7 linked regions of the Homo sapiens genome follow. The protein of the gene in region 1 purifies or fractionates together with the protein of each later gene. This does not show direct contact. Each region holds a gene or a part of one and is shown in the gene's direction. Other genes may lie near its edges.

The links.
Region 2: the proteins of ITGA2 (region 1) and TSPAN15 purify together in Homo sapiens (co-immunoprecipitation; one large-scale study listed by IntAct). This does not show direct contact.
Region 3: the proteins of ITGA2 (region 1) and TSPAN5 purify together in Homo sapiens (co-immunoprecipitation; one large-scale study listed by IntAct). This does not show direct contact.
Region 4: the proteins of ITGA2 (region 1) and KAZN fractionate together in Homo sapiens (co-fractionation; one large-scale study listed by BioGRID). This does not show direct contact.
Region 5: the proteins of ITGA2 (region 1) and TVP23B fractionate together in Homo sapiens (co-fractionation; one large-scale study listed by BioGRID). This does not show direct contact.
Region 6: the proteins of ITGA2 (region 1) and CD47 purify together in Homo sapiens (co-immunoprecipitation; one study listed by IntAct). This does not show direct contact.
Region 7: the proteins of ITGA2 (region 1) and KIAA1191 purify together in Homo sapiens (co-immunoprecipitation; one large-scale study listed by IntAct). This does not show direct contact.

What each region holds. Positions count from the first base shown.
Region 1 is NC_000005.10:53,092,816-53,096,255, forward strand, and holds the end of ITGA2 (integrin alpha-2 precursor), read left to right. Parts: 3' UTR 1-1,964; downstream 1,965-3,440. UniProt on the Homo sapiens protein: Integrin alpha-2/beta-1 is a receptor for laminin, collagen, collagen C-propeptides, fibronectin and E-cadherin. It recognizes the proline-hydroxylated sequence G-F-P-G-E-R in collagen.
Region 2 is NC_000010.11:69,505,142-69,508,498, forward strand, and holds the end of TSPAN15 (tetraspanin-15), read left to right. Parts: intron 1-982; coding exon 983-1,099; intron 1,100-1,687; coding exon 1,688-1,837; 3' UTR 1,838-2,525; downstream 2,526-3,357. UniProt on the Homo sapiens protein: Part of TspanC8 subgroup, composed of 6 members that interact with the transmembrane metalloprotease ADAM10.
Region 3 is NC_000004.12:98,476,352-98,480,857, reverse strand, and holds part of TSPAN5 (tetraspanin-5), read left to right. Parts: intron 1-2,047; coding exon 2,048-2,173; intron 2,174-4,397; coding exon 4,398-4,445; intron 4,446-4,506. UniProt on the Homo sapiens protein: Part of TspanC8 subgroup, composed of 6 members that interact with the transmembrane metalloprotease ADAM10.
Region 4 is NC_000001.11:14,597,192-14,602,198, forward strand, and holds the start of KAZN (kazrin), read left to right. Parts: upstream 1-1,493; 5' UTR 1,494-1,791; coding exon of another isoform or gene 1,792-1,806; coding exon 1,807-2,032; intron 2,033-5,007. UniProt on the Homo sapiens protein: Component of the cornified envelope of keratinocytes. May be involved in the interplay between adherens junctions and desmosomes. The function in the nucleus is not known.
Region 5 is NC_000017.11:18,797,824-18,802,329, forward strand, and holds part of TVP23B (Golgi apparatus membrane protein TVP23 homolog B), read left to right. Parts: intron 1-988; coding exon 989-1,120; intron 1,121-3,559; coding exon of another isoform or gene 3,560-3,562; exon of another isoform or gene 3,563-3,606; intron 3,607-4,506.
Region 6 is NC_000003.12:108,073,799-108,078,304, reverse strand, and holds part of CD47 (leukocyte surface antigen CD47 isoform 1 precursor), read left to right. Parts: intron 1-4,506. UniProt on the Homo sapiens protein: Adhesive protein that mediates cell-to-cell interactions. Acts as a receptor for thrombospondin THBS1 and as modulator of integrin signaling through the activation of heterotrimeric G proteins.
Region 7 is NC_000005.10:176,345,200-176,349,307, reverse strand, and holds the end of KIAA1191 (putative monooxygenase p33MONOX), read left to right. Parts: intron 1-951; coding exon 952-1,058; intron 1,059-1,244; coding exon 1,245-1,387; intron 1,388-1,499; coding exon 1,500-1,708; 3' UTR 1,709-3,246; downstream 3,247-4,108. Other genes in the region: SIMC1 (SUMO-interacting motif-containing protein 1), read right to left, coding at 3,863-4,108. UniProt on the Homo sapiens protein: Potential NADPH-dependent oxidoreductase. May be involved in the regulation of neuronal survival, differentiation and axonal outgrowth.

The sequences.
Region 1 (3,440 bases):
AAAAGACAATGTGGCCAGGCACGGTGGCTCACACCTGTAATCCCAACACTTTGGGAGGCTGAGGCCGGTGGATCACGAGGTCAGGAGTTTGAGACTAGCCTGGCCAACATGGTGAAACCCCATCTCTAATAATATAAAAATTAGCTGGGCGTAGTAGCAGGTGCCTGTAATCCCAGTTACTCGGGAAGCTGAGGCAGGAGAATCACTTGAACCCGGGAGGCAGAGGTTTCAGTGAGCCGAGATCGCGCCACTGCACTCCAGCCTGGGTGACAGGGCAAGACTCTGTCTCAAACAAACAAACAAAAAAAAAGTTAGTACTGTATATGTAAATACTAGCTTTTCAATGTGCTATACAAACAATTATAGCACATCCTTCCTTTTACTCTGTCTCACCTCCTTTAGGTGAGTACTTCCTTAAATAAGTGCTAAACATACATATACGGAACTTGAAAGCTTTGGTTAGCCTTGCCTTAGGTAATCAGCCTAGTTTACACTGTTTCCAGGGAGTAGTTGAATTACTATAAACCATTAGCCACTTGTCTCTGCACCATTTATCACACCAGGACAGGGTCTCTCAACCTGGGCGCTACTGTCATTTGGGGCCAGGTGATTCTTCCTTGCAGGGGCTGTCCTGTACCTTGTAGGACAGCAGCCCTGTCCTAGAAGGTATGTTTAGCAGCATTCCTGGCCTCTAGCTACCCGATGCCAGAGCATGCTCCCCCCGCAGTCATGACAATCAAAAAATGTCTCCAGACATTGTCAAATGCCTCCTGGGGGGCAGTATTTCTCAAGCACTTTTAAGCAAAGGTAAGTATTCATACAAGAAATTTAGGGGGAAAAAACATTGTTTAAATAAAAGCTATGTGTTCCTATTCAACAATATTTTTGCTTTAAAAGTAAGTAGAGGGCATAAAAGATGTCATATTCAAATTTCCATTTCATAAATGGTGTACAGACAAGGTCTATAGAATGTGGTAAAAACTTGACTGCAACACAAGGCTTATAAAATAGTAAGATAGTAAAATAGCTTATGAAGAAACTACAGAGATTTAAAATTGTGCATGACTCATTTCAGCAGCAAAATAAGAACTCCTAACTGAACAGAAATTTTTCTACCTAGCAATGTTATTCTTGTAAAATAGTTACCTATTAAAACTGTGAAGAGTAAAACTAAAGCCAATTTATTATAGTCACACAAGTGATTATACTAAAAATTATTATAAAGGTTATAATTTTATAATGTATTTACCTGTCCTGATATATAGCTATAACCCAATATATGAAAATCTCAAAAATTAAGACATCATCATACAGAAGGCAGGATTCCTTAAACTGAGATCCCTGATCCATCTTTAATATTTCAATTTGCACACATAAAACAATGCCCTTTTGTGTACATTCAGGCATACCCATTTTAATCAATTTGAAAGGTTAATTTAAACCTCTAGAGGTGAATGAGAAACATGGGGGAAAAGTATGAAATAGGTGAAAATCTTAACTATTTCTTTGAACTCTAAAGACTGAAACTGTAGCCATTATGTAAATAAAGTTTCATATGTACCTGTTTATTTTGGCAGATTAAGTCAAAATATGAATGTATATATTGCATAACTATGTTAGAATTGTATATATTTTAAAGAAATTGTCTTGGATATTTTCCTTTATACATAATAGATAAGTCTTTTTTCAAATGTGGTGTTTGATGTTTTTGATTAAATGTGTTTTGCCTCTTTCCACAAAAACTGTAAAAATAAATGCATGTTTGTACAAAAAGTTGCAGAATTCATTTGATTTATGAGAAACAAAAATTAAATTGTAGTCAACAGTTAGTAGTTTTTCTCATATCCAAGTATAACAAACAGAAAAGTTTCATTATTGTAACCCACTTTTTTCATACCACATTATTGAATATTGTTACAATTGTTTTGAAAATAAAGCCATTTTCTTTGGGCTTTTATAAGTTATATATTTTACTATTTTTATCTTATACATTCACTTTGCTCACATCCAAGACTCAATTTAAGAAGACTGAGGCTATAATTAATTTGCCATAAGTGTCCAGTCTATGTTTCTAGCAGTGACCACAAGGATCTTCTTTTGTAAGACTCTTAAACTGCCTTCGAAGTTTTGAGACAGTGTAAAGCATTGCTCCTCAAAGTGTGGCCCAGGGACAGATGGTGCTGCATCACCTGGAGCCTGTTAAAAAACACAGATCTCAGGGGCCACTCAAAACTATTCAAGTCAAATTGTAAGTTCTACAGCATCCCCAGGTGATTCATATTGCATTGAAGTTGAGAAGCACTGCTCTAAAGCTTACCTTTTGAAATAAAATGTGTGCTTGGAATAGAGAGGGAAAAAAAATCAGCCAAACTGCTGCAACATGCAAAAGCAGAGTCATCTGCACAGTTTAAAAAAAATCATAATAAGCAGGAAGGTTTAAATATTTTTAAAGAGTAAATATGCTGAAATAAATATGCTGTAAGTTATAAAGTAAGTACACGTTGGGCTCACAGACTGCCATCGCTGTACAGATGGCAGAGTAATGCAAAGACAGGGTGGAAAGTGTGTGTGTGCTGCCATAAATAGCGATGCACCAGCATCTCCATTCATGTCTGCGGCGCTCTCTCACATGCCTCCCTGCCCATCGCAGTTGTGCTGAGCCGTCTCAGGAGGGCAGCTCACTGCAGCACAACCATCAATAAGTGTGTCTGCTATATATCTCACATTAAAATACAATCTTGGAGAGCTGAATGTGGGAATTGCAGCTACTTGGGAGGCTGAGGCAGGGAGGATCCTTTGAACCCAGGAGTTCAAGGCCGGCAACATGAGACCCCCCCCCTCCCAGCTCTTAAAAAATAAAATGTTAGAGAAAGAGAGCACTAAGTTTTATTTCTTTGTTTTTCACAGAGCAGGTTAGGAAATGCTGTACAGGTTAGGAAGACCTGTATTAAAGCAATCATTTATATCCCATAGTTAACTGGAAAATAATTTTATACTTACTTTTTAAAAAGTACTTCTTTTTATTTATTCTACATCACTTGTTAAAAACTACAAATTGCATTTTCAAAAACTCCTTCCTGATCCTATCATAATCTTTTAATATTTTTAAGGTGTCAATTAAAGATTGGACATCATCTTACATAAAATCAGGGCCTAATTTTCATTTCGGAACCACTACAGCCTGACTTTAAAGAAAATGGCTACTAAACTGAACTTTTGGTTCTATGCAAAATTAAATCTAAGTAAGACTCAAGTTGCTAAGAGCAACTTTACTATAACTTTTACTATGGCTCTGGCTCTACTGCCCTCTGCTGGATGATCCACCGAACTACATCACACAAATCATTCTTGAGAGATCTTCACTGTACCAGGTGCTCAGTAACTGTGTAAGATGTCTAAATCACTTATTTCTCAAAAAAGGCTGAAAATATATTGTGACT
Region 2 (3,357 bases), on another chromosome or scaffold:
GTGGTAATGTCCTATTTATTATCCCCAAGTGAAATTCACAGATAACCTACCTACATGCCCAATTCCAATACAATTAACATAATGATCTGAGATAAAGTAGAAATGAAATACAGCAATTTACAGCTGTTTAACATAGTTCATCATGTAAGTGCTTAGGCAGTGGGGGGTGCAGAAGACACAATGTAGTCAGGTGTCTGCACTGATGTGAGGCATCCCTGAGGCTGTAGTAGCTACAGGGCAGCTGATACTGGGCATTGTGTTGGCGACTCACATACCATGGGCATCATTTTTGCCACTGGCATGGTTTTTAAAAACGGTGAACAATTCTTGATAAAGTTCTGAATTAAATAATGTGTAATCATTCCTTAATTTACCTAGTAGTACTTCTGGAAAATTCTTTGTATATTAAAACCAATGCAGAAATGCTTTTTTTTTTTTTTTCCCTTAAGAGACAGACAGGGTCTCACTGTTGCCTAGGCTGGCCTCAAACTCCTAGGCTTAGGCACTCCTCCCAACTGAGCCTCCATAGTAGCTGGGACTGCAGGCACTGGCCACCATGCCCAACTCTGCTTTGTTTTTTATATGTACCTGGAGTGGGGCTATTGGCTTGGATAATTATAAATAGGCTTTTCATGTATGGAAAACATCCGTGAGGCTTTTCATGCAGGGACATCTGAGAAGCACACAGGCAGGGCAGTTGTTTGTGGAGTAGGATTACCCTGAGCTCTGCAGTCCCTCAGCCGCCAACCTCGTTTGCTGGGGCAACCAAAAGTGCCACCACGGTGTCCCCAGTCCTCTCTAGAGAACAGTACTGTCCATTAAGAATCAGAATCTAGGGTCACCTTCTCATGCTGCATATGGGAAACTGAGGATCACAGCGGTTGAGGGACTAGCCTGGACCTTGTGTACATGGCAGAGTCGGGGCTGTGGCTCCTGCCAGCCGAGGTCCTCTGCTGGGCTGACCCAGCTCCTTCCCATGCAGCGTTTCAGTGTGCAGGATGTCATCTACGTGCGGGGCTGCACCAACGCCGTGATCATCTGGTTCATGGACAACTACACCATCATGGCGGGCATCCTCCTGGGCATCCTGCTTCCCCAGGTGGGCAGGCCGTGGGTTCAGAGAAAGTGTGACTTGGTGATTGCAGAAGGGCAGAGAAGGTGCAGAGGGGAAGAGCGAAGAGGCTTTTTTCATAGAAGTCCAGGACTTGCCTGGGGAGGGCTGCATGGCTGGAAGGAGGGGCAAATGGCAATAGCAGTCGTGGCGAAGCTCTTCCAAGTGCTGCGCAGGCACTGCTGCTTCACTTCTTTTTGTGAGGGAGGCACTATTATAATGCCTATTTCACAGAGGAGGAAACTGAGGAGCAGCAAGCTTCAGTGACTTGCCAAGATCCCCTAGATAGTGTGCAGCAGAGCTGGGGTGGAGGCAGGAATCCCAGAAGGGAGGGGCCCTTGCTGATGGGGCACAGCGAGGCGCTCTGGGATTTCCTGGGAAGGGGAGAGGGGGCCCAGGTGGGAGCTTCTTGGGCAGTGTGGGTGCTGGGAGAAGTCTCTGCTGTGGGTGTTGCCCAGGTCACACAGGACCATGAGGGCTTGGGACTGGCTGCTTGGGTTTCTGGGAGCCGGGAGCTGCAGGGAGGGCTGCCCTGATTCCCAGCAGGCCCTCACCAGCCCTGCCCCTTCTTCTCAGTTCCTGGGGGTGCTGCTGACGCTGCTGTACATCACCCGGGTGGAGGACATCATCATGGAGCACTCTGTCACTGATGGGCTCCTGGGGCCCGGTGCCAAGCCCAGCGTGGAGGCGGCAGGCACGGGATGCTGCTTGTGCTACCCCAATTAGGGCCCAGCCTGCCATGGCAGCTCCAACAAGGACCGTCTGGGATAGCACCTCTCAGTCAACATCGTGGGGCTGGACAGGGCTGCGGCCCCTCTGCCCACACTCAGTACTGACCAAAGCCAGGGCTGTGTGTGCCTGTGTGTAGGTCCCACGGCCTCTGCCTCCCCAGGGAGCAGAGCCTGGGCCTCCCCTAAGAGGCTTTCCCCGAGGCAGCTCTGGAATCTGTGCCCACCTGGGGCCTGGGGAACAAGGCCCTCCTTTCTCCAGGCCTGGGCTACGGGGGAGGGAGAGCCTGAGGCTCTGCTCAGGGCCCATTTCATCTCTGGCAGTGCCTTGGCGGTGGTATTCAAGGCAGTTTTGTAGCACCTGTAATTGGGGAGAGGGAGTGTGCCCCTCGGGGCAGGAGGGAAGGGCATCTGGGGAAGGGCAGGAGGGAAGAGCTGTCCATGCAGCCACGCCCATGGCCAGGTTGGCCTCTTCTCAGCCTCCCAGGTGCCTTGAGCCCTCTTGCAAGGGCGGCTGCTTCCTTGAGCCTAGTTTTTTTACGTGATTTTTGTAACATTCATTTTTTTGTACAGATAACAGGAGTTTCTGACTAATCAAAGCTGGTATTTCCCCGCATGTCTTATTCTTGCCCTTCCCCCAACCAGTTTGTTAATCAAACAATAAAAACATGTTTTTTTTTTTTTTTTTTTTTTGCCTTTCCTGTGTGCTGTTTTGTTGGGGCGGGGGTAAGGAAGGCTGCAACCTGGATTTGGAAACCCCTTGTGGATGCGAGGATGAAGGGGGTGCATGGGGTGAAGATTTGGCATAGCTTGGGATACAGGTGGGGGGTTGGGGGGAAAGCCTCAGGGCCAGAGGTGACCACGCCTATTTTACCGAGAACCGAGGGAAACAGCCTGGGCCAGGTACAGCATGAGGCTCCACCTCCAGGAAATGGGGTGGATGGGGTGGGGGACCAGGGAAGCGGAGTTGCCCACAGGTCCACCTACCGCGCTCCCTGCAGCCCTCAGTGTGCCTAATGGCTGCCGCGCAACGCATGCAGAGCGTGGTGTCGGTCGACCCCTGCTGGAGATGCCGGGACTTGCGTGCGTCAGTCCACTCAAACCTTCGGGCCAGAAGACATGGGATCTAGATTTTTTGTGAGGCTCTTAGTAGCCAGGGCAATAGAAATAAAGTAGCAAGAGGCCGGGCATGGTGGCTCACGCCTGTAACCCCAACACTTTGGGAGGCTGAGGTGGGCCATCACGAGGTCAGGTGTTCGAGACCAGCCTGACCAACATAGTGAAACCCCATCTCTACTAAAAATACAAAAATTAGCCGGGCATGGTGGTGCGCGCCTGTAGTTCCAGCTACTCAGGAGGCTGAGGCAGGAGAATCGCTTGAACCCGGGAGGCGGAGGTTGTGGTGAGCCGAGATCACACCACTGTACTCCAGCCTGGGCAACAGAGTGAGACTCCATCTCAAAAAAAAAAAAAAAAAAAAAAAAAAAAAAGAAGAAGAAATAAAGCAGCAAGAGCCCC
Region 3 (4,506 bases), on another chromosome or scaffold:
AGCTGCCCCTTAAGTGGGAAATTAAGCCCTGATTCATGTCCTCAGCCGACTTCACTGTTTTATTAGGTCCTAATGGGTGCAGGCTCCCTAATAATCCCTTTCCTGGCATTATTCCTGACTAGTTTGCATGACACATTGATGGAGCTTTGTGGACACACCTCGAAATGCATGACCCAAGCCCTGGAAGGACCATGTTGTCTTGGGATGCTGTGTGCTTTAAACGGAAATACTACAGTTTCATGTGATTTTCTTTTTGCATCATGGAATGTAATGTTTAGAAGTAGCTGTTGGTCCGGAAGGTCTTCAAATGGTTGAGACTTGATATTTATTTAACTCAGAGAAGTAGAGAAAGTGCATCCCAGGGAAGTGAGGAAGGGGCTTGTGTAGTAGCCTTTGACTCCGGCCCCATTTAAGAACCACTGAATTTAACCGCTTGTTTTAATATATTTTAATTGGAAGACTGACTTTTTAAAGTTGAAAATGTAAAACACATGCACTTGTTTTTAAACAAACTCAGAGTAGAAACAAATATGATGAAAAGTTAACCTCTAAAATTTTTGGTGGTAATGGATATATCAACTATATATCCATTGATTGTGGTGACATTTTTGTGATGTATACAGATGTCAAAATTTATCAAATTGTATACTTTAAAATGTGCAATTTATTGTATGTCAGTTATACCTCCATTATTGCGGGATCTGGCCAGCAGCCTGCAATGCAACAGGGATCTCTCTGTTCCCAGGCGGATCGGCAGGTCGAGAAATAATAGACACACACAAGATAGTGAAAGCTGGGTCCAGGGGGGTCACCGCCTTCTGGTCACGCAGTGCCAACAATGCACTGGATATACCAGAATTTATTATTAAGTTTAGTGAGGGTGGGGGTAGGTTAGTGAGGGATTTAGGTCATTTGATTATGAGGTGAGATGGTCACATGGGGATGAAGTAATTCTTTAACATAACATCTGTATGCAAAAGTACAGTATACAGGGATAAGAATTTACAATATAGTGTGTGCTTCAGTAATTTCTAACAGAGCCTTAAAACAGAAACACAGTCTTTCCACAACCTATGATTAGCAAGATATTAGTCAGCAGTAACAGTTGCAGCAAAAGCCAGTTACAAACAATCCATAGAAACAGGACGTGAAGCTACACAACCAGTTAGACCAGAAATTCTCAGAAGGGAGTATGCCTTAACCCTAAAGAGGTCTAGAAGAGCCGTGGCAAGATGAGGGCATTTATAGCCCTGTCTTATACATATGGACAGGTGCCCCTCATGTGTCTGTTTATAGGCTCTCCACAAAGGTCGCATTCTATTCCCAGAGCTATGAACATCTGCTTTTCTGGGATAGGAATCTTGGTGATGTGAAACCTCCCTGACTGCACGTCCATTCATAGGCTCTCTGCAGGGGGAAGCACATCACGCACTGTTGGCTCATTCTGGCAGTCCAACCTGGCATTGTCTTTACACAATCCTGCATGCAATTTTGTATTTCCAGTAATCAGGAGCATTTCATCTTTTATTCCATAGCAATAGTTTCAGGGGGTCTCCCTGCGCTCCATAAAACAAAACAGATCTTTAAAAAAACTATTAGAATGTAGAGATCAAAACTTTGAAAAAGTAAGCTATAGTTAGCCCACCCATAACCCCAGTTGCCTCCTTCAGTCACTACCACTGTCGTTAGTGTCTTATTTACCCTTCTAGAATGTTCTTGTTTCTCCTTCTAGAATGACGTGCCCAAGCCAAACAGATCTTGTTCTAACTGAGCCCTGCTGTACAGCTGCTCTGCCCTTCTTCCACCTAACACCACAGGTCTCATCAGTTGTTTAAATCACGTGCCAACACATCCCTACAAACCTTCAGCCCTAATTAATTTGGAAGATTTTATATGGGCCATTTAGGTTCAGTTTGGCTTAAAAATAAAGTCTAGGACAGAAAAGAAGGTCAGAGCTGGCAGAAGCTGGTGTCGTTCGGCGGGTGTGAGTGTAGGTGACTGCTTGCCTCCAAGTTGGGATGTTCTAATTCTTTCCTGTTTGCTCTAGTGGCAGTGCTGTGGGGCTTTTGGAGCTGATGATTGGAACCTAAATATTTACTTCAATTGCACAGATTCCAATGCAAGTCGAGAGCGATGTGGCGTTCCATTCTCCTGCTGCACTAAAGATCCCGCAGTAAGTGAATGCCAGCGAACTATTGGCCTACTCTGTACATCATGCCGAGAGTGTGCATGGGACGAGCAGAGTGATTTTTTGGTTGAACCCTCTTCTTACCTGGTTACTCGTATTTGTAGCTCCTGTAGGGGGTTATGGTGCTCAAATCTTCCTAGTAGGAGTAATAATTGCTGGCATTAATTTAGCAGTGTGTGCTGGTTCCTATTCTAAGCCTTTATGTGTGTTGGCTCATTTAAGTTGGGCACATTCCTACTGGCAGATACCACCATTACCCTCCCTTTTCAGGGGAAGAAATCAAGGCACATGAGGTGTAAGTGACTTTCCCAAGCTTGCACTGCTAGCAGGCAATGGAGTGGAATATGAGACCCAGGCAACTTGCCTGTATCATCTGTTAGCCTTTCTTCATGAGAAGGGCAGGCTCATATGAGAGCTCTCTGCATTGGTTTGGGGTTAGTAACCCTTTTCTTTTTGGCTTAGTTCTAGGGGAACTATTAGGAGTAGGAGGAGAGTTTGAGACAAGATAGGCCTGGACTGCTGTGTAGGAAGACCACAGCTGCCCAGACTCCTGAATGTCATCATGACTATAGTCATGCAGTTTGCATTTTATTATAAAAAAGAATAAAATATAAAATCTATTTGTAAGTCACTCACTTTTGCCACAGGTTTGATTATATTTTGTGTCAAATCGTGCCTGGTATATAGAATGACTTAAAATGCAATTCTTAAGCCAGGCATAGTAGTTCACACCTGTAATCCCAGCACTTTGGCAGGCTGAGGTGGGAGGATCCCTTGAGCCCAGGAGTTAAAGACCAGCCTGAGCAACATAGTGAGACCCCATCTCTACAAAAAAATTAAAAAATTAGCCATGTGTGGTGGCACACACCCGTGGTCCCATCTACTCTGGAGGCTGAAACAGGATCACTTGAGCCCAGGAGTTTGAGGCTGCAGTGAGCCATGATCATGCCACTGCCCTCCATCCTGGTGACAGAGTGAGACCACAATTCTTAAAAAAAAAAAAAAAAGGTAACTCTCTAGTGTTAGAATGACAAACATGAGAGGTTACTCCACGCATCTCTGTGTGCTCCTAGCTGCAGAACCCTTCTGGGACTCCTCAACTGTTCTCTGGCCCTGCAGTCTCCAGATGTACTCCCCAAGGCTCGCCCTTACCCCTCAGAAGCAGAGCCGAGTGGGTGCTGATGAGCTCAGTGGGGATGCTCCTTCTTATGGTGGAGGCTGTGGGGCTCTTAAAAGGAGCTATGGTCTTGGAGTGGAAAAGCAGAACTTCCCTGTGGGCTTCCTCCAGGGGACCACCTCAGCTGTTTCTCTTGGTCTGAAAGAGGAGACAAAGTCACTAAGGACTGTGCTGCCCCGCCAGCTGCCCTTCCCACCAGCTCAAACCTCCTCTCCCTTCTGAGGAGAGCCACATGGCAGCAGAGTGCCCACTCAGAGCTTGAGGGGCTCATCCTGGTGGCCTTGCACTGGCCAGCGGGTGCCGCACAGTGCGCCTCCTGTCGCCAGTTCCTGTCCCACATTAACACTCCCTTGGGAGAATTCTGTATTCTCAGAGGCATTAATGCTTCCCCTTTCACCTACAGATCCTCTGGGCAGAGCTAGCTCATTCCTTGCGCTCTAAGCTAATAAAATCTGCCCCACACCCCGCAGAGAAGGAAAATAAACAACCCGAAAAAGTGGAACCATGTTTCTGATCAGACCCTGTGAGACGTCAGGTTGTCTGTGTGATTATGTGGTCGGGGCATTGTTTTGTTTTTTAATTATTAAAAGCTCATTGAAAAACAATTTAAGTAACATGGAAGTACATAGATTAAAAAGTAGCAGTCCATCCAAAAGAGCATACATGAAGATTCACTGTGCCCTTTATGTTTTTTATCTGTGTCTCCAGTTCCCTAAATCCCATAAGCTTCTTGAGGTTGGCACCACTTTGAATCTTGAGCCTCCTGTGTGATAGACTTGCTGTCTTTTCTGATATTCCCCAAGCCTTAGTTTTCCTTATTTGTAAAATAGGGCATATTTTAATACCTACTTCTGAAGATTGTCGCAATAATGACATGGGATCATGTATATAAAGTGTTTAACATAGTGCTGCAGTCTTTGTGCCCAGATACACATTTTATTACTAATGCGTAACAGAAGTCTTCTGCTCATTTCTAGGTGGGCTTTCTGTCTAATGAGTAAATTTCACTTTTCTCTTTCCTTTCTTCACCAGGAAGATGTCATCAACACTCAGTGTGGCTATGATGCCAGGCAAAAACCAGTAAGTGGAATCTCATGTTGTTGCTTAGCACGAAGGGTGTTGGAGGAGCTTTGGCCTGTGC
Region 4 (5,007 bases), on another chromosome or scaffold:
GTTAAGGTCAGGGTTCGATCCCCGAACTGACCCATTAGCTGAGCAGAGCGGACAGAGTGAAGAATTGTGTCTTCCTGCCACATGCTCCACCATCAAATCCTGCCCTCTTGCAAAAGCTTGTTAGTGGTCACAGGGGAATGGAGCAAGACTGTTTTTATGGTTCCACAGAAAAGGGGGGAGAAATCTATCATCCAAGGCCTCCTGAAGGCGCAGCAGGAGGAACTTGCAATCAGATGATTACTTTCTTCCAGTCCCGCTGTCACCTGGTTTCTGCGGGCCCCTTAAGTAAATTGCTTAACCCTATGCAGAGCCTCAGTTTCCTTATCCCTAAAATGGGAATAATAATCCTCACTCACAAGAGATAAGAATGCATATAAAAGCACTCTACACGCAGTTTTTGCTTGGTTCTTATGGGCTTCCTGTAAGAACCTGAAGGGTGGGCAGCCTCATTTTTCCTCGCAGCACCCCACTGGCTTCTGCAATCTGCTCTTTGCTGCTCTCCGGAGGTTGACTGAGCTGGAATGATGGCGCCCTGTTGACCAGAGGGTTGCTGGCTGTTTTAAATTGTCCTATTTGCATGGAATGAAGTTTGCTATGGTAACAAGGTCTGGTGGCTGGAATCCAGGGCCCCAGTGAAAAATGCAAAGCCTGTGGTCTGGGAGAGAAAGAGGAGCTGGAGAGGGCATATCAACGTCAGGTTACCTCAGTTCTTCTGTGAAGAGGGGATGGGTAAACTGAGGCAGCAGGGCTCAACTCTTCTGCTCCCAGTAGAAGAAAGGGAAGAAGCCCCATCGACGCCTTCCTTCTTATCTCTCAACCTCATCTCTGTCCCCGCCAATATTCAGCCCGGCTAAGAAGCTTAGGAGCTGGCTAAGGCTGCTCCTCCACCTGGATGCACACACAGGGCTAGGGCTGTGGAGAGGCGGGAGCACCAGCGGCCCACGCCGAGGAAGATAGGCGCTCCCTCCTGGGGTGGGCAGCGCAGGTCTGGCCTGCGGGTGGGGGGTGGAGAGTGAGAGGCACGCGGGGCACCAGCTCAGCTCCCCTCTGGGGATTTCGTACTCGCAGTTTAAGGAACCGGTGGAGCACGAACTCCACTCCTGAGCTGGCGCAAGCGTCTCCCTTCCATGGAGATCCACCCCGGCTCCCCTCTGAGGCCCCCTTTCCAAGCACCCTCTCTTCCGAGCACCCAGCACCTCCCCAACCTTAGCACGGCTCGGGGCACCAGTTCTCCAGGGCGGGGGCTGCCCCACCGCTCAAGGGAGGGGACAGAGGGCCGGCCTCGGTCCAGGCGACCCCTGCCCCTCGCCAGGGGCGCCACCTTGGCCCCCTCCCGACTGCCGTCCGCCGCCTCCGCCCCCCCGGGGGGTGTGTCTCCGAAGTACGGGGGCGCGGGAGGCCAAGGGTGCCCCCAGCCTCCGACCGAGACCCCCTCCCGAGCCGGCGGCGAATGGTAGGCTCCATTTAAAGAGTGCCTGGTGGCGCGCGGTGTCCTTCTTGGAGCAGCTCTCGGCGCCCGCCCGCCGGGGTCTCGGCGATCGCTGCTCCTCCTCCTCCTTCTCCTCCTCTTTTTTCTCCTCCGCCTCCTCCCCCCGCCGCCTCGCCACCGCCGCGGCTAGGGCTGGAGGCGCCGCTGTCATTCCTGTGCCGGAGGAACCGGCGCTGCCGGTGCCTGGGGGTCGGGGCGCGGGCGAAGCCGGGCCGCGGAGGACACAACAGGTAGAGCCGGGGGTGCCCGGCCGCGCGCCCCCCGCGCATCATGCAGCTCTTTGTCACCTCTCTCGCCCCCAGGCCAAAATCCTGAGCATGATGGAAGACAATAAGCAGCTCGCGCTCCGCATCGATGGGGCGGTCCAGTCGGCCAGCCAGGAGGTGACCAACCTGCGAGCCGAACTCACGGCCACCAACCGGAGACTGGCGGAACTGAGCGGCGGCGGCGGCCCCGGCCCGGGCCCGGGAGCCGCGGCCAGCGCCTCGGCGGCGGGGGACTCGGCGGCGACGAACATGGAGAACCCCCAGCTTGGAGCGCAAGGTAGGATCGCCCCGGCGCCCAGGGCGGAGGAAGGCGAGCAGAGCACGCCCGGCCTCGGAGGTGGCCGGGGACCCGGGGTCCCCCACACCCGGGGCGAAATCGCTTTGCATTCTGGCTTGTAACCCTTTCCGCCCGGCGGTGGCCACCGCTGCTCTCCGGCTGGGAGTTGCAGGCTGCTGTCATTCACGAAAACCCGAGCGCAGTGTGCACGGGGTCACACGGTCACACCGGCCCCGGCCAGCCTGAGCGAGGCGCAGCCGGCGGGTCCCTTCCGGCATCAGAAAGTGCCCTTTCCGTGGCACCAGCCCCCTAGCTCCGTGCAAACTTTTCATGCCGGGGCCTTTTCCCCACCCCCCGCAGGGGTGAATGGCACAGTTCCCCCCACTTCCTTAGGCTCCTTCCCAGAGAGAGCTCCGGGCTCTGCCGCCGTGGTTGGGATAGAGGATTGCACTGCTGTGCACTTTTCTCCGCGGATGCCAAATCCCTTGGCTCAGTTGCATCTGGACTTTATTTTCTTCTCATTTGAGGTCTCTCAGGCATTGGAATCTATAGATGCAACAGTAGATGCTCAGCTCAGCAGGGAGTTTAAATTTCCGCAAATATAAACACCGAGAGCACTTTCCAGGGGGATACTGTAGACCTCAAAGGTTGAGCGGTAGAGAAATGAAGGCTTAGGGTGGTGGGCTGCAGGGAGCCCGTTTGAAGGGACTCTGCGGTTTAGAGAAGAGGAAGAAAAAGACAGTTGGTTTGTGTTCACATTGACAGAGATTAAGCTCTGAAACCCCCTGCAAGACATAAAGGCGGATGGGGCATTCCCTAAAATGTACTGTTTGGTTTCTGTGACTTAGAAAGTAAAAGGGTAAGCAGGCTTTGGGGGATTTTTTTTTTCTTTTTGCCTAATTGCCCTTTAAGAAACAGTATCACTGGTTATTAATATCATTTGAATTGCAAATTAAACTGCTGAAATCCAGAACAGGACAGAAACAAATCTCCAGTCCATGAGGTCCACTTGTCTAAATATGTCACTTGAAGTGCAAGGTACCAATTGCTCAGTGGCTCAAAATGATTTTCTGGTTCTGTTGTCATTTCAAGAGCTTCTCTTGAGGGTTGAGAGAGTCTGTTTTCCTAAGAATCTGGTTCTCTCCATCAGTCTCTGTTTCCACCTTATCTTCCTGGGAAGGTGTGCTTTCTTTGAGGTGAGATGTGAAGCCTGCCCACGTGCAGTTTTATGTCGAATTCCAAGTCAGATCTTAACTTGGTACTCCCGGAGCCTGTTGGAAGTCTTAGGAATTGGGGGGAGTACTTTGGTAAGGAAGTAGCCATGACGTAATGGTGAGAAGGTGTTGTGGTCCTAGTGCTTGCTGCAAGCTTGACATGTGGTTATTCTTGTCATCCTTGCAATGTCATTGTGTGCGAAAGAACATTCTCCACTGGAACCTGTGCAAAAAAAAAAAAAAAAAAAAAAGACAGACTGCAAGGTAATGCTTCACTTTTTATAGGCAGAGGCTCTGCTAACATTAAAGAAATAGCTAAGAACTGGCATTTTGCTAAGAATCAAAAGCTGTATAGTAAAGGACACTGAACAATGCTCGTTTATTTCCCACTGTCTGCCCCTTTCTCCGCGAAGGAAAAGTTAAGTGGCTTTTTATCTGAGTCCTGGGTCTGGTTGTAGACTGGGCAGGCTAAGGCAGTCAACGCAGTAATGATGTCCACATGCTCAACTTGAAAACTGACATACTCGCGGATGGTTAAATTGTTGTAGTGGAGCAACAGGGGGCTGATTCCTTGTTCTTTTTTCCTACACAAATGCACAGGGCTGTGGAAATGAAAATGGCTTTTGGATCTCTTGGATATCCTTAAAAACACATAAAACCAGCAGCTCCCATACGCTCTCAGGACTGTGCCTGCCCATGTCAGTGGCTGGCTGTGGGTGGTAGGATGAAGGGTGGTCTTGATTTCTCCTCTTTGTACATTGGTATGTCTCAAAATCTTTCCTAGGGGCACTTTGTGATTTTTATAATCAGAAAATAAAATGTTCAAAGGTTTAAACTCTACTTGATTGTTGGCCGCATAACCGTCTAAACTGATATGCATTTCAACAGATGTGATGGTTGAAAAGAAAACAAGCCCCCGTATAAGTTCAGTGGGGTATCATTTACTTGTCTGTAGCAACAGTACTTGATACATTATTTAGCCTCTGTAAGTTTGGGGGATTTTTTTTTTTTGATGGGGGCGGGAGTTGTTTTTGTTTGTTTTTGTTTTTTTCATAGCCTGTGGCAGCATCCTGCTAGCACAGAAACCCTCTGCAGAGGTGGTCTGGTAGTTTCTTTTGCCATTGCTTTCATTATCCTAAAAAGAAGCCTTGAGTTCTCACACAAGTTAATTTTAAAGTGCAATTGATTGGGTTCCACTTGATTCTTCGTAATACACCTCCAGGGAGGCTCCCAGAGGCTCAGCTCCTCAGGGTTTCTGACTGTTCTTCCAAATTAGTCTTGTGTTTTCATTTTGTCTGTGTTGGTGCAGTTCAATGGGCCCAGACCCTAAGAGTGTTTAAGTGCTATTGAGTTATCAGTTTTCAAATCAAGGTTTTGAATAAAACGAGTATCTTTGCATTTCAAAATGCAACCGTGTAAGTCATCTTTTAACGAAAGGGCATTATGCACATATTAAATGCATGCTAATGTAACTTTAACAATATTAGTACAAATGGTTTTGGGAAAGAGTCACCTTTTGCTTCCTCTGCCAAGAGACTGTTAGATTCATTTTCAAATGTTTTTGTTTTTGTTTTTTAAATTCTTTTTTTAAATGAATGAAGCAAACTCATCAATCCATCATTGGCTGTTTTGTTCCAGGGATGACAACGGGCAGTAGGTAGGTTGGTATCCCCTTTTGATGAAGAAAATTTGGGTTTTCCTAGCGGGTTAATGCAGTGTGTCATTTAAACAAAATATTAACTTGGTTGGTACTCCCTGTGA
Region 5 (4,506 bases), on another chromosome or scaffold:
ATTTTTCTGTCTAGTTCAGACCAGAAACAAGCAATATACAGAACAGAATCCTTTGAGGGAAGACACTGGGTCTGAGTTCATACAGTGTGCTAAGCTGCCTGTCAGGGATTGCTGATAAAAGATCTCTGTGTTGCCTTTGTTAGTGTCTCCATAAATCCCTCTATGCTCAGCAGATAACTGCTTTTAACATCTTGTTCTGTCTTTGCTCCTGTGGTCGTCTTTCATTTCTGGGCAGGAAAAAGGAGGAGGAGTGCAGCTGGATAGAATATCTGATCGGAGCACTCTATTCCTAAGCTTCTGCCTTCAGGAGCCCTGGGGATCCTGGTCTGTTTTGGGTTAGCCTGCTACACTATAGTGAATATTCACTTTCCTTGTGGAAATAAGTTTTGGAAGCAGAGGACCAAATTCTTGGCGACAGTACACCAAGGGTATTGACAAGTTATTTTAAGAAAGTGGCACTGTGTTCAATGAGCCTGTATTCTTTTATATTATAGAATCTACCTTGGAAACAACTTACCACCCTTGTAACTTCCTGGGTATTGCTAAGACATTTTGATTATTGTCCAGAATCCCTTGATTCCGTTTTTTTTTTTTCCTCTGGACCCTAATTTGACCTTTTAGTCTCCAGAATGATTATAACTGTGATTTCCTTGATCATTGGTAGGAAAGGTATCATTTAGAGCTTCCTTATGAATAAATAGTACAAGTGCAAGAAGAATTGAATAGAATCCTATCAGAGACCACTCTTTACTGTCATGAGTTGTGGTAAACCATCCATCCTGCCCTGAAAATGCAAAATTCTTGAGTTAATATAGATCAGTTCCTAAAATTACAAGAGTGATAGTCATGTATTTTTGGGTTCTAACTTAGGAGTTGGGCTGTGTGTATTAATATTTGAACTTGTGGGTAATATGTTTTTTATTAAACATGTTGAACTTTTTATTGATAAATTTCACAACATGATAATTGAATTTATGTTCTTTTATAGGAGTCCTCTCAAGAGAATAAAACTGTGTCAGAGGCTGAATCAAGAATCTTTTGGTTGGGACTTATTGCCTGTCCAGTACTGTGGGTGATATTTGCTTTTAGTGCACTCTTCTCCTTCAGAGTAAAGTGGTTGGTGAGTATCAGTGTAGAACTTTCAAATAATCCATTAAGATGTCTGATGGTAATCATAGGAAGCAACAACTACAACTGAGTCCTTATCATTAGGGACCTATCTTGAATAGGCAGCTTCATCATGTAATTCCCAAGTTTTGCTTCCCAACTTTACCTTTCTCTATAATACTGGAGAAGAGATCCTAAAAAACCCCTTCCCACCAGTTTTCTAGATTATTAGTGGTCTTTTCTGGAAATAATGGTTGGTAACCTATTGCTGCCTAACAAATCACTCCAAAACATAGTGGCTTAGAGCAACAACAGCCATTATCTCACAGTTTCTATGGGTCAGGATCTTGGGAAGGGCTCTGCTGGGAGATTCTGGCTTGGGGTCTTGAGTAGTTGTAGTCAGACAGTAGTTGGAATGATGGGGGTTGTGAGCCATCTCCTCTTCATGAGGTCCCATGGCCTCTCCACATGTTTTTCCCTGTGCCTTCGTTTGGGCTTCTTCATGGCATGGTGGCCTCATGGTGGTGGGACTGCTTACGTGGCAGCCCAGTACTTCACTTGTGGGGTGTTCTAGCTCGCAAGCTTTTACAATCTAGCTAAGATGTCATAGCATCGCTTCTGCTGCCCACTCACATTCAAGGAAATGGGAATTAGGCTCTGCTCTTGATAAGGAATAAGAAGGTGCTAGAAGACTTTGTGGAAGAGGAGATATTGTTGCTGCTGTCTTTGGAAAATATAGTTTGTCACTTGACCCAATTTGTGAGTCTTACTCTTTTTTATATCTCATATTATTTTTTCTTATTCTATCTTATATCTGATATGAATAAATATTGTGTGAATTTTCACACAATATTTATTGATATCAGATATATTTTGGCCTTAATTATGTTTTTCCTCCTAATTTGTAGTATTTTCTTAGTCCTATTTTGCGATATAGATTCTTTTTTTCTTTGTGTGTGCTCATACATTCATACTTTCCTTCTTTGGATTTGGAAGCTTATTGGAAGCTTATTGTCTTTTTTCAGTTCTTCTGGTAGTTACCTTTAATTACTTTATATGTTTATATCATTACCCTCTTTCATGAATTAGGAAATTTATTCAGTATTTATGGAGTTCCTGCTCTGGAAAATGGGAAACTTTACGCTAATATGGTTTCTTTAACTTCTCCCTCCTCCTACCTCTAGAGTTTTGCTTATTATAGTCTTATTTTAGTCCTTCTAGTGGTTTTCTTTGTAACATTAATTAATGTACTTAAACCTGTTTATTGACTTAATAGACTCTGTTTAGAAAGGGAAGAAAATAAACACTCATATTCCTTCCTATGAGTTTCCTCCTTTCTCTCTTGTTTGTTCCAATGTTATTTTTGTGTTACCAAGTTTTATAATAGTTATCTTTTGAAAACATATTTCTTACTGGTTGTTTAGTCTTTGATCTGTTTTTTAAAAAAGTCGATTCATTGCCTATCACCAGTCTTACTGCAGCTTCTCCTTTTACTTATTGGTTGGCTACATTTTCTTTTGACTCATGTTTAAACATATGAGCCTATTGACTATTCTTAAATGATGACCTGGCTGGATTAATATTCTTGGGTCACAGTTTGTTTCTTTTTGGAAGATGCTATTCCATCATTTTCTTTCACTGAATATCTTGGAGAAGTCTGAGGCCAGGCTTACTTAACCTTTGTAATCTCTCCTCATAAGGTGTTTTTTTTTTTAGTTCATGTAACCCAGATGTATCTGTATTTATCTTTCCATATCAAGTTTTCTGGAGTCTGTGCCTTTCTGACAGGCAGACCAAAGTTTTGCTTGGAATCAGGAAAATTTTTTCTGTTAAATCTTTGCATTTATTTATGTTCTATGGTTTGACCTTTCATTTTGAAGTACCAGTTACGTTTATGTTGGATCATTTTTATTTGTTCTCATCTACTATTTTCTTGTTGCTTTAATTATTCATCTTTTCCTTATTTATTCAGCAATTTTAAGAGTTCACTCTTATGTCAGAGCTGTCTGGAGACACAGGGGGATAAGTTAGGGGACAGTAAACAAGTTGACTGCTCCAGTAGAGCTTATGTTCTAGTGGAAGGTAGACAAACAGTAAAAAATACAACAGGGGATGTTAGTTAATGATACAAAGTAATGGGGTAGAGAGTGCAGAGGAGAGAACAGTAACTATTTTAAGTGCTCAGCTAAGGCTTCTCTCTGTATTTCCTTAGCTTTGTCAGCTCCGTTTTCATCTCCTGTTATCTCACCCTCATGCTTTTTGAGTTCTTTTCTTTAGGTTTTTCTGTAGGGTGAAATAGTCCGAGGAATGCTTTTATTTTGGTGGGGTTTTTTTCTTTTCGAGTAGATTCTTCACCTATCTTCTGTATACTATGCTTCTTTTTTCTTTTTTCACTATAGTTTTGCATAAATGCACTTCCCTTTTTCCTTATCCATTTTGCTTATCCTTACAGTGACAGTCCTGTCCAGCCCTTCTCTTTCTGCTGGTTTAGTGCGGGTGAATCCCCCTTGACCACCTTCTCCTGATGTCTGAGGCACGTGGCTGCTGCTCTGAGCTGGAGTTGCAGTGCTGGGTTTGGTGGCCTGAAGACACAGGTGTGATGTGCGATGTGGAGAACTTGCCAGGCTCTTGCTCTCTTGGCTGGGCTGCCTGGTTTTGCGTTCTCTTCCTTAGTGGGGCTCTTGTCTGCTGGTTGGCTGTGCACTCTCTTCTGGTTCTTCCCTTCTGCTTTGGATTGTTTGTAAGACCTTAGAGCTTTAGCATCCATCCAAGAGAGTCAGCCCAGTCTTTTTCTAGCAGTGTTTCTACTTCCTTAAAACAAAACAGGGAGAGGTTATGTGAAAGCCAGTTTGATCCTGTGTTAACCTACTTATGCCTAGTGTTCCATTATTGGAACACTAAGCATGTAGGAGTTATTTATATCCTACTGCTCAAGGTCATCACCAAGGTCTGATTTTTCACTCATGCAAAAATTCACAAAATTGCAGCCTACAGCATAAATGGGTTAAGACCTCGGCATGGTGGCTCATGCCTGTAATCCCAGCACTTTGGGAGGGCCAAGGCGGGCGGATCACGAGGTCAGGAGATCGAGACCATCCTGGCTAACATGGTGAAACCCTGTCTCTACTAAAAATACAAAAAATTAGCCGGGTGTGGTGGCAGGCACCTGTAGTCCCAGTTACTCGGGAGGCTGAGGCAGGAGAATGGAGTGAACCCAGGAGGCAGAGTTTGCAGTGAGCCAAGATCGTGCCACCGCACTCCAGCCTGAGCAACAGAGCGAGACTCCATCTCAAAAAATAAATAAATAAAAATAATAAAAATAAATGGGTTAAGACCACAGGACGGGAATGGGCTTCACCCAGTCTCTCCATGAGTCTCCCACCTCCTCACTTCTCTTAA
Region 6 (4,506 bases), on another chromosome or scaffold:
GTTTGCAAAATACCCTATAAAAATAAAAACTAGACTTATTTTGGGAGCCATTAAAAGGAGAAAGTATTGTTTTATTATAGAGAATGTAGAAAATTCTACCAGAGGTTTGAGACATTTGGCTTTGCATCCATTTTAATTTTTTGAAATAATTATTGATTTACAGGACGATTCAAAGATAGAGAGCTTCCATGTGCCCTTCACCCAGTCCCCCCAATGGTTTCCTCTTATGTGACACAATATGAAAATCAGGAAGTTCACAATGGTGCAGTGTGTGTTAATGGTTCGCTCTCATTTTATCACGTGTTTATTTGCGTAACTACCTACACAATCAGGACATAGACCTATCCATCATAACAAACATCTCCCTCATGCTTATTCTTACTAGTCATACCGCCACCTCCCACTGTCCCTAACCTGGCAAGCACCAATTTGTCCTCCATATCTATAATTTTGTCATTTCAACAATGCTATATAAATGGAATGATACAAGATGTGACCTTTTGAGAAGGGCTTTTTCACTAAGCACAATGCCCTTGAGATCTATCCAAGTTTTTGCATCTATCAATAGTTCTTTTTTCCTTACTTTTTTTTTTGCTGAGTAGTAGTCCATAGTATGAATATATCACAGTTTGTTTAACCACTTACCTATAGTAGGACATTTTGGTTGTTTCCAAGTTTGGGCTGTTACAAATGAAACTGCTCTGAACAATTGTGTACAGGTTCTTGTGTAGACACAGTTTTCATTTCTCTGGGATAAATGCTCAGAAGTATGGTTACTGGGCTGTATGGTAAGTATATGCTTAGTTTTTAAAGAAACTGCCAGACTTTTCCAGAGTGGCTATTTCATTTTACATTTCCATCAACAATGTAAGAGTGATCTGGTTTCTCCACATCCTCACCAGTATCTGGTGCCACTATGTTGTAACCATTTTTAACTGAAAAAAACAACAAACAAACAAAAACCAGTTAAAAAGTTATCTGCACAAAAAGGTTAAATGGGGCAGGACTCTTACTATGGAGTATAAGTTCTTTTCTAATAAGAATACTTACTTGTCACGGACTTTGAGGATTTAAGCATTAGAAACCATTTTTACTATGTCGTGATTTTTGCAAATACAGGCATAAATGAGAAACAGAATTTGCTCAATAGAGAAGTGAATTCTACTTAATAGAATGCAGATAATAGTGACCATTCTTTGTGCCTTTTTAAATTTTTTGGAGGACTAGGACTGAATACATGGAAACACTATAAGATATAGTTTTATATACCTCTGTGCCTATGTATGATATAGTCCATTAGAAGGAGCACTGGACTTGAAATTAGAAAGCTGTTTTCTAGACTTCACTGTTTAATAGCTTAAGAAAAGTTGGATAAAAAACTCAACCTATCTGTCCCTCAAATTCTTCTTAGTACAGTAAAGATGGCATCACCATCATGGAAATGTTTGAGATATAAATAATACCTCTCTTACTTAACAAAATTTTACTAAGTGCCTACCATGTGCCAGTCACCGTACTAGGCATCACAGATTCTGTGATGAATAAGACATTATTGCTGATTTCAAGGAAGTGGTTGCAGTACAAATATGAAGAGTGAAGTGACCTAACATTTATTTGCACATGTGCCACATACTTTATGTAAGTCGTGTCCTGTTATCCTCTCAAGAACTCTAGGAGATAGATGGAGTTCTTACCATTTAACAAATAGGGAAGCAAAAGAGATTCAAGGTATTGTTCAAGGTCAGAGTAATAGCCAAGAATTAAACCTAGATCTCTTTGGCATCAAAACCCAGTATTTTTACCACCGTAATATGTGGTTCATGTGAAAACACCTTGTAAATAACTAAATACTGAATGCAAATACTAGTAATCATAAAATTTATCATTAATATTTCTGTTCTATTAGCAATACAAAAACTTGAAAACTTAAAGTTTATTTTTCTCTAAGCTATTAGAGTTTTGTTTAGAAAGGTCAGTTCAAGTTCCGCAGTGTTGCCAATTCCATTATTATCAACAGGACATATGGTCTGTTTATAATGAAGACATGAAGGCATTGCAAGATCTTTGTATTAGTTTTCTAGTGCTGCATAACAACTACAAATATAGCAGCTTAAAACACTACCCATTTTTTAGCTCAAAGTTTTGTAGGTGGCAAGCCTGGTCATGGCATGACTGGGTTCTCTGATCAAAGTCTTAAAAGACTAAAATCAAGGTGTTGCCCAGGGCATACTTTATTTGGAGTTTGGGGTCTTGTTCTAGGCTCACATAATTGTGACAGAATTCAATTCCTTGTGATTGTAAGACTGGGGTCCCTGTTTCTTTGCTAAGTATCTGCCAAGGAATTGTAGCAGCTCCTAGAGATTGCCCTCATTTCTTGCCCCATGGCCCCTTGCATATTTAAAGCCAGCAAAGGAGAATCTTCCTCTTGTTGAATCCCTCTCACATATTGAGTTTATTTTGCCAGGAAGAACCCAGACCCTTTTAAGAGACCACTTGGTTAGGTCAGCTCTCTCTCCCTCAAAAATAATCTCTCTTTCTTAAAGTCAGCTGATTTGGGATCTTAATTACATCAGCAAACTCCCTTTTGCTGGGTGATATAATCATGAAAATGAAATCCAATACATTCACAGTCCTAGTCTCCCACACACAAGGGGAGGGAATTATAAAAGATGCATGGCTAGGGCAGGGGTTTTGGGACCACCTTAGAATTCTGGGTTTGATTAAATAAATAATGGGACTGTAGCCTAGCAAGTCGACACATCAGAAAAGCCATCACAATCCTGAAACATCAAGTAAAAATTTGGTTTGCATTTTAGGATTGTAAATGTTACTGTGGTGTATGCGTGTGTGTGTGTGTGTAACCTGGTGTTCCCTATGTTTGTGGGAGTTTGAAGGAGACACTTTGTTGATAGGAATGGTGTCTTCACTTTTTTAGGTTGTCTCATTTTTGTACAGTGATAAGACAAATGAGGTCCTGGGTTTTAATAACACTTCAGCTTGAAAGCAAAAATTAAACACTTATTCATTGACTACACCCTTGTAATATCACTTCTTTGCCTTTCCACTAGCAAGAAGTTCATTTTCGTGGAAGCCATTCTGCCTGTCCAGGAATTGGAGGAGAGTGATAGACACAGTTGTCAGCCATAGCTTGGGTAGAATAAGGATGTGAATGTCCTTGGCTTATCTTTATTAATCTTGTGATGGAAAAATATCTGACATTGTTCTTAGTCCATTTTAAGCTTAATTTATGTTCTTAGTGGCATAGAAATTCAGAGCTGAAAGAAGTATCATGTCTCACTCTCCCCTTGAGGAACAAGAGTTAACGTCATCTGACAGTACTACCATAACAAATCAATAGCTTAATAGGCATATAAGTGGCTTTATATAAAATGTTGGTTTTTTTCCCCCAGCATCTCAGTTGGTTCTTAAATATCTAATTCCATGATCCTCAAACTTTTCCCACTGTAACAAATTAGAGAGAGGAGGAACATGTTCATCAGTGACTGTAGTTCAAATACAGCAGAAATGTGCAGCAGTGATTTCAAACTGAGAGAATCCTGGATGCCCTTCTCCATTGTGTGCCCCCCCCCCCCACCCGCCCCACATATCAGGGAACAATTTAAAATCCTGGCACAATAATGAGAAGGGAGAGTGACAAACTGATAAGTTCCAGTTAAGAATCACTTAGACAGGCCAGGTGTGGCAGCCCACGCCTGTAATACCAGCACTTTGGGAGGCTGAGGCAGGTGGATCACCTGAGGTCAGGAATTTGAGACCAGCCTGGCCAACATGATAAAACCCTGTCTCTACCAAAATTACAAAATTTAGCTGGGCATGGTGGCGCCTGCCTATAATCCCAGCTACTTGGGAGGCTGAGACAGGAGAATTGCTTGAACCCGGGAGGTGGAGGTTGCAGTGAGCTGAGACCACACCACTGCACTCCAGCCTGGGCAACAGAGTGAGACTCCATCTCAAAAATAAAAAAAAAAGAATCACTTAGACAGTATTTTTTGTTCTGTAATCTTCCTCTCTGTCATTGAAATGTCTCATATTTCTTGTTTCACATAGAATCTGGGAGTCATCAAGTAGTCATCTAGTCTATCTCATCATCTAATTTACGAATTATTTCTATCACACCCCAAGTAGCTGGCGATTCAGATTTTTTACTGAAAGCTTGACATGATGAGACATTATTACTTCCCAGAGGATCTTGGTCTGTTATCAGGCAATTTCAGTTCTTCCTTAAATCAAGCTAAAACTTGCTACTATTCTCACTCACTGGGAGGGCTGTAGTATTTCTCTCAAGTTTATACCTCTCTGTGATGAAAATCTCTGTTCTTTTAGCCATTGCTCATGGTTTCGGGATCCCCATTCTAGTCATCTTCCTTTGGAGCAATTCCCTGTTAGATCTTCAAATGTGATGAGTAAAACTGAGCTCAGGACTGCGTTTGTTGGTCACACCCTTCTCCCTTCCAAATGACTGCTGCTGTAACTTTCTGACAGGTC
Region 7 (4,108 bases), about 120 Mb from region 1:
CAGTTTAAGCTTTCAAACAAGACAGAAGCTTCCAGAGAGGGGCACCGGCAGCCTTTGACCCTTAACTGAGAACTTTCCAGGATAGGTCAGTGAGAATTCTATTTGAGCAATTCACCTTATATAATGGTAGGATTGACTTTGGTTGACCCACTTTCTGTGTCTTGCCCATAGGAGTAGAACATGAGGATGGCTGAAATATTAGCTGTAACTTACATCTTGTAACAGATTGTCAACTTACATGAATGGATCTGTTGAGCGTTTGAGAAAATTCAAACGTGATCATTGTTTGGTGTGCAGCTTGGGTTAAGCAGTGGCGTGGCAGGCCTGGAGGGAGGAAACAGCATGGGAACCTTGCTCTAGAAGAGCTGAGATGTAGACCTGTCTCTCCCCACTAGACTGCGAGTCAGAGGAATGCTCACGGTGCTGAGGGAACCCAGAGTGGCTGACTATGGGAGAGAAGGAGGAGAGAATGGAACAGGCTCCTCAGAGGAAGCATTTAGCTGGAGAGAAGCAGCATGCCTGAGTATTGGCTTGGAGAGACTGAGGATGGGCAGGGCTTTGTACATGGTAGGAGCAGCAGCGAGACAAGAGCTTAAGCCCTGCTTAAAAGGCCAAGAAGGCTGGCAGCTAGCGTTCTGGCTCTTCCATTTTACTGTCTGGGGGAATGTGGGGAAATTACTTCACGTTTCTGAAAGTAAAAGTTGTAGTGTAAAGCTTTAAGTACAGGGATGTTCATGATATAGTGTAGAATGAACACATTTTTTAAGGAGATGGAGTTCCATCTAGTATGGCAAAAACAAAGGACTACCTGTTAGATCATCCGAAATCATTCCACCTGTAGATGTCTTCTGCCTAAAGTTAGAATGCGAACCAAATTTTTTATGCCTAGACTTATCTGTTTGGAATTTGCTTTCATTTTTAAAAAGTCTCTCTTCTTACCCATCTGAGCAGAAACTAAAGTTACAGAGTGGAGAGGTAACAAAAGAAGAGAGGCAGCCTGCATCAGCCCAGTCCACCCCAAGCACCACTCCGCACTCTTCACCTAAGCAGAGGCCCAGGTGAGCCCTTCCTGTGACCCTTCCGAGTTCCTGCGTGCTTCAGGAAAGCTAGTGTGGCAGATGAGGTTGTATTTAAGCCTGTGGTTTCAGAGGGAGAAGGGATAGTTCCCTGTTCTTTTGGTGTGAGACATTTCTAGGGGCGAAGGAAGAGGTATTTTAGGATATGTTTTGTTCTTTCTTTCCCAGGGGCTGGTTCACTTCTGGTTCTTCCACAGCCTTACCTGGCCCAAATCCTAGCACCATGGACTCTGGAAGTGGGGATAAGGACAGAAACTTGTCAGATAAGTGGAGCCTCTTTGGACCGAGATCCCTTCAGAAGTACGATTCTGGTAAGGCAGCACCTTCAAAAAAGAGAGCAGCATGGCAGACATCTTACCATATTGTATACCGGGAGCTGTTTACTGGTTTTGAAATCATTTGCACTCTGGTTCACTTTTGTAGGAAGTTTTGCCACCCAGGCCTACCGAGGAGCCCAGAAGCCCTCTCCATTGGAACTGATACGTGCCCAGGCCAACCGAATGGCTGAAGATCCAGCAGCCTTGAAGCCCCCCAAGATGGACATCCCAGTGATGGAAGGAAAGAAACAGCCACCACGGGCCCATAACCTCAAACCCCGTGACCTGAATGTGCTCACACCCACTGGCTTCTAGAGCCCTCTTTCCAGGGATTCTGGTAAAGGTGGTTTCTTGCATCCCACTCCCCTTTTACCTTGGCTTTGACATAGGAAAGGTATATTTAAAAACTTAATCAGCTGGGCGTGGTGGCTCACGCCTGTAATCCCAGCACTTTGGGAGGCCAAGGTAGGTGGATACCTGAGGTCAGGAGTTCAAGACCAGCCTGGCCAACATGGTGAAACCCCGTCTCTACTAAAAATACAAAAATTAGCTGGGCGTGGTGGTGGGCGCCTGTAGTCCCAGCTACTTGGGAGGCTGAGGCAGGAGAATCGCCTGAACCCAGGAAGCAGATGTTGTACCGAGCTGAGATCATGCCATTACACTCCAGCCTGGGCGACAGAACGAGACGCCATCAATAAATAAATAAATAAAGTAAAGTAAAAAACCTATTAAATTGAGGCTAGAGCTGGAGATGTAATTGGTTTTTGAGAAACATTAGTATAAAGCTTGCCCTTGTTGTGTGGAAGAAGCCATTTTGTACTGCTTTAAAGTTAGACTAATATTCTCAGCACGGGTGTATGGGGACCTCATTACCTATTTTTTTCATCATTTACCCTAGGTAAGAACTTTGATCACTGCTTACTAGGTAAAGAATGTTTGTACTGTTCCAAAACCCAGGCTTCTTTATTCCTTTACCACTATCCATGTGAGCATTGACAAATCATGGCTTAGAGGTGCTCACTGACTCGCTAAGACGACTTTGGCCCTGTTGATGACTGGTGCTGTGCTCCAGCCTTATCAGTTAGGGGACCCAAGGTTTGTTTGGGACCTGGGTACAGGTAAAAGCCAGACTTGGCAGGGACCCCTCTTTCTAGGCTGAACCTTGAGTCCCCCTGCTTTTTGGCAGACCTAATGGATCACTGTCTTGCAGCTAGTTCTTCATGTGGGGCCTCTTAGGCCAGTGCCGGAGGAGGCATGCTCCTCTTTCTATGCCACAGAACAAACACTACTCTAGCAGAGCCTTTCTTGCACTTTAAAGTGAGATTAATTTAGCTGTAATTTGGTTAAAAACTTCCTAAGAGAGAAAATTAAGTCTACTGATTTGGTATAGGTAAATGGACATTAAACTTTTTTAAAGTAAAGGAGATGGTAGATACCGTTAGATTATAGTCTTGAGGTTCATGTGAAGCCAGTGGTGTTAACTTACTTTGATTTCCTTGTTCAGGTCAGGGCCTGGAACGCCTGTGCGGGGAGGTCACTCAATTCAAAATTTTCTGTATGAAAGCATTTTTCACCAAAATGAGCCTCATCCCTTTATGCAACACATAACCTTACTGAGGGAGGGAAATACAGAAGCCACCTTTTTATTTCTCTTCACTGTGTACAAGTTCACTTGTTGTCTTGAACACTGTCTCAAATACCTGCTTTTTGTTTTGGATAGTACCTTGTCTGTATAAGAAGCTGGCCTTTCCATAGAGAGGCCCTGGAGTCTAAAATTATGAGAACAATTAATTTATTTGTGTCTTCTATTATGATCTCGTTTTGACAATAAAAATCCTTACTACTTTCTCAAATGTGGCTATTTTTTTGTCCTTTTAACAATAGTTATTCCACTCTACCCACCCAGAGTCACACTGAACTTGGTATTTTGAAAAACCATTGCCTTTTTATTGTCTCCTTTTAACATCAAATGTTTTATAACACACTTGATCCTTTTGTTTCTACCCCCTATTCATTACAGTCAAATTAACAGGCAATATAATAGGTCTAACAGAATGCTTGCATTTCATTAGGGAAAAATGAACGTCTCTCTCCTGAAACAGGTTGTCGGTACCTTGAATGACATAATATTGGTGTATAGACTAGGTTCAGCAGAGGGATTTTTTCCACATCTTGAATGAAAATGTTAAACATGTGATGCACAGAGTATTAACCTGTTTCAAAAAAGTATAGATAAATAATTTATTAAAAAATATATATACCTTGTATATTTAAGCCATATTTGAGAACAGGCTAGGATAGGATTATTTAAAAAAAGATATTTACTAGAGTTAGAAATTACAACCTACTGATTAAATAATGCAGGTTTGGTCCTGTAAGATTTTAACCACTTTTCATGCTTTTAGAGCTTCTGAGCAGTTGGAGAGAGAGTTCAGGAGGTATTCTTGGCATTCAGTGCTTGGCAGGCCCTCAGGAGCCGCTCCAGCCCTTTTGAAAGGGCTCTGCATCAGGGTTCAAGTCCGCAGCATAGAAGAGCAGGAGCTTCAACAAGTGCACTTTGTCTTGGAGTTGGGGGACAAGAGGCTCCCCCAGCATCTGGATCAGGCGGCTGCGGAAGGCCTCAATCTGCTTCTCTACGTCTACCACTGTGATGTCATCTCCTTGCTGGGGTTTGGGCTTAATCCTTTTGATTATTAAGTCCTTTCGGTCGATCAC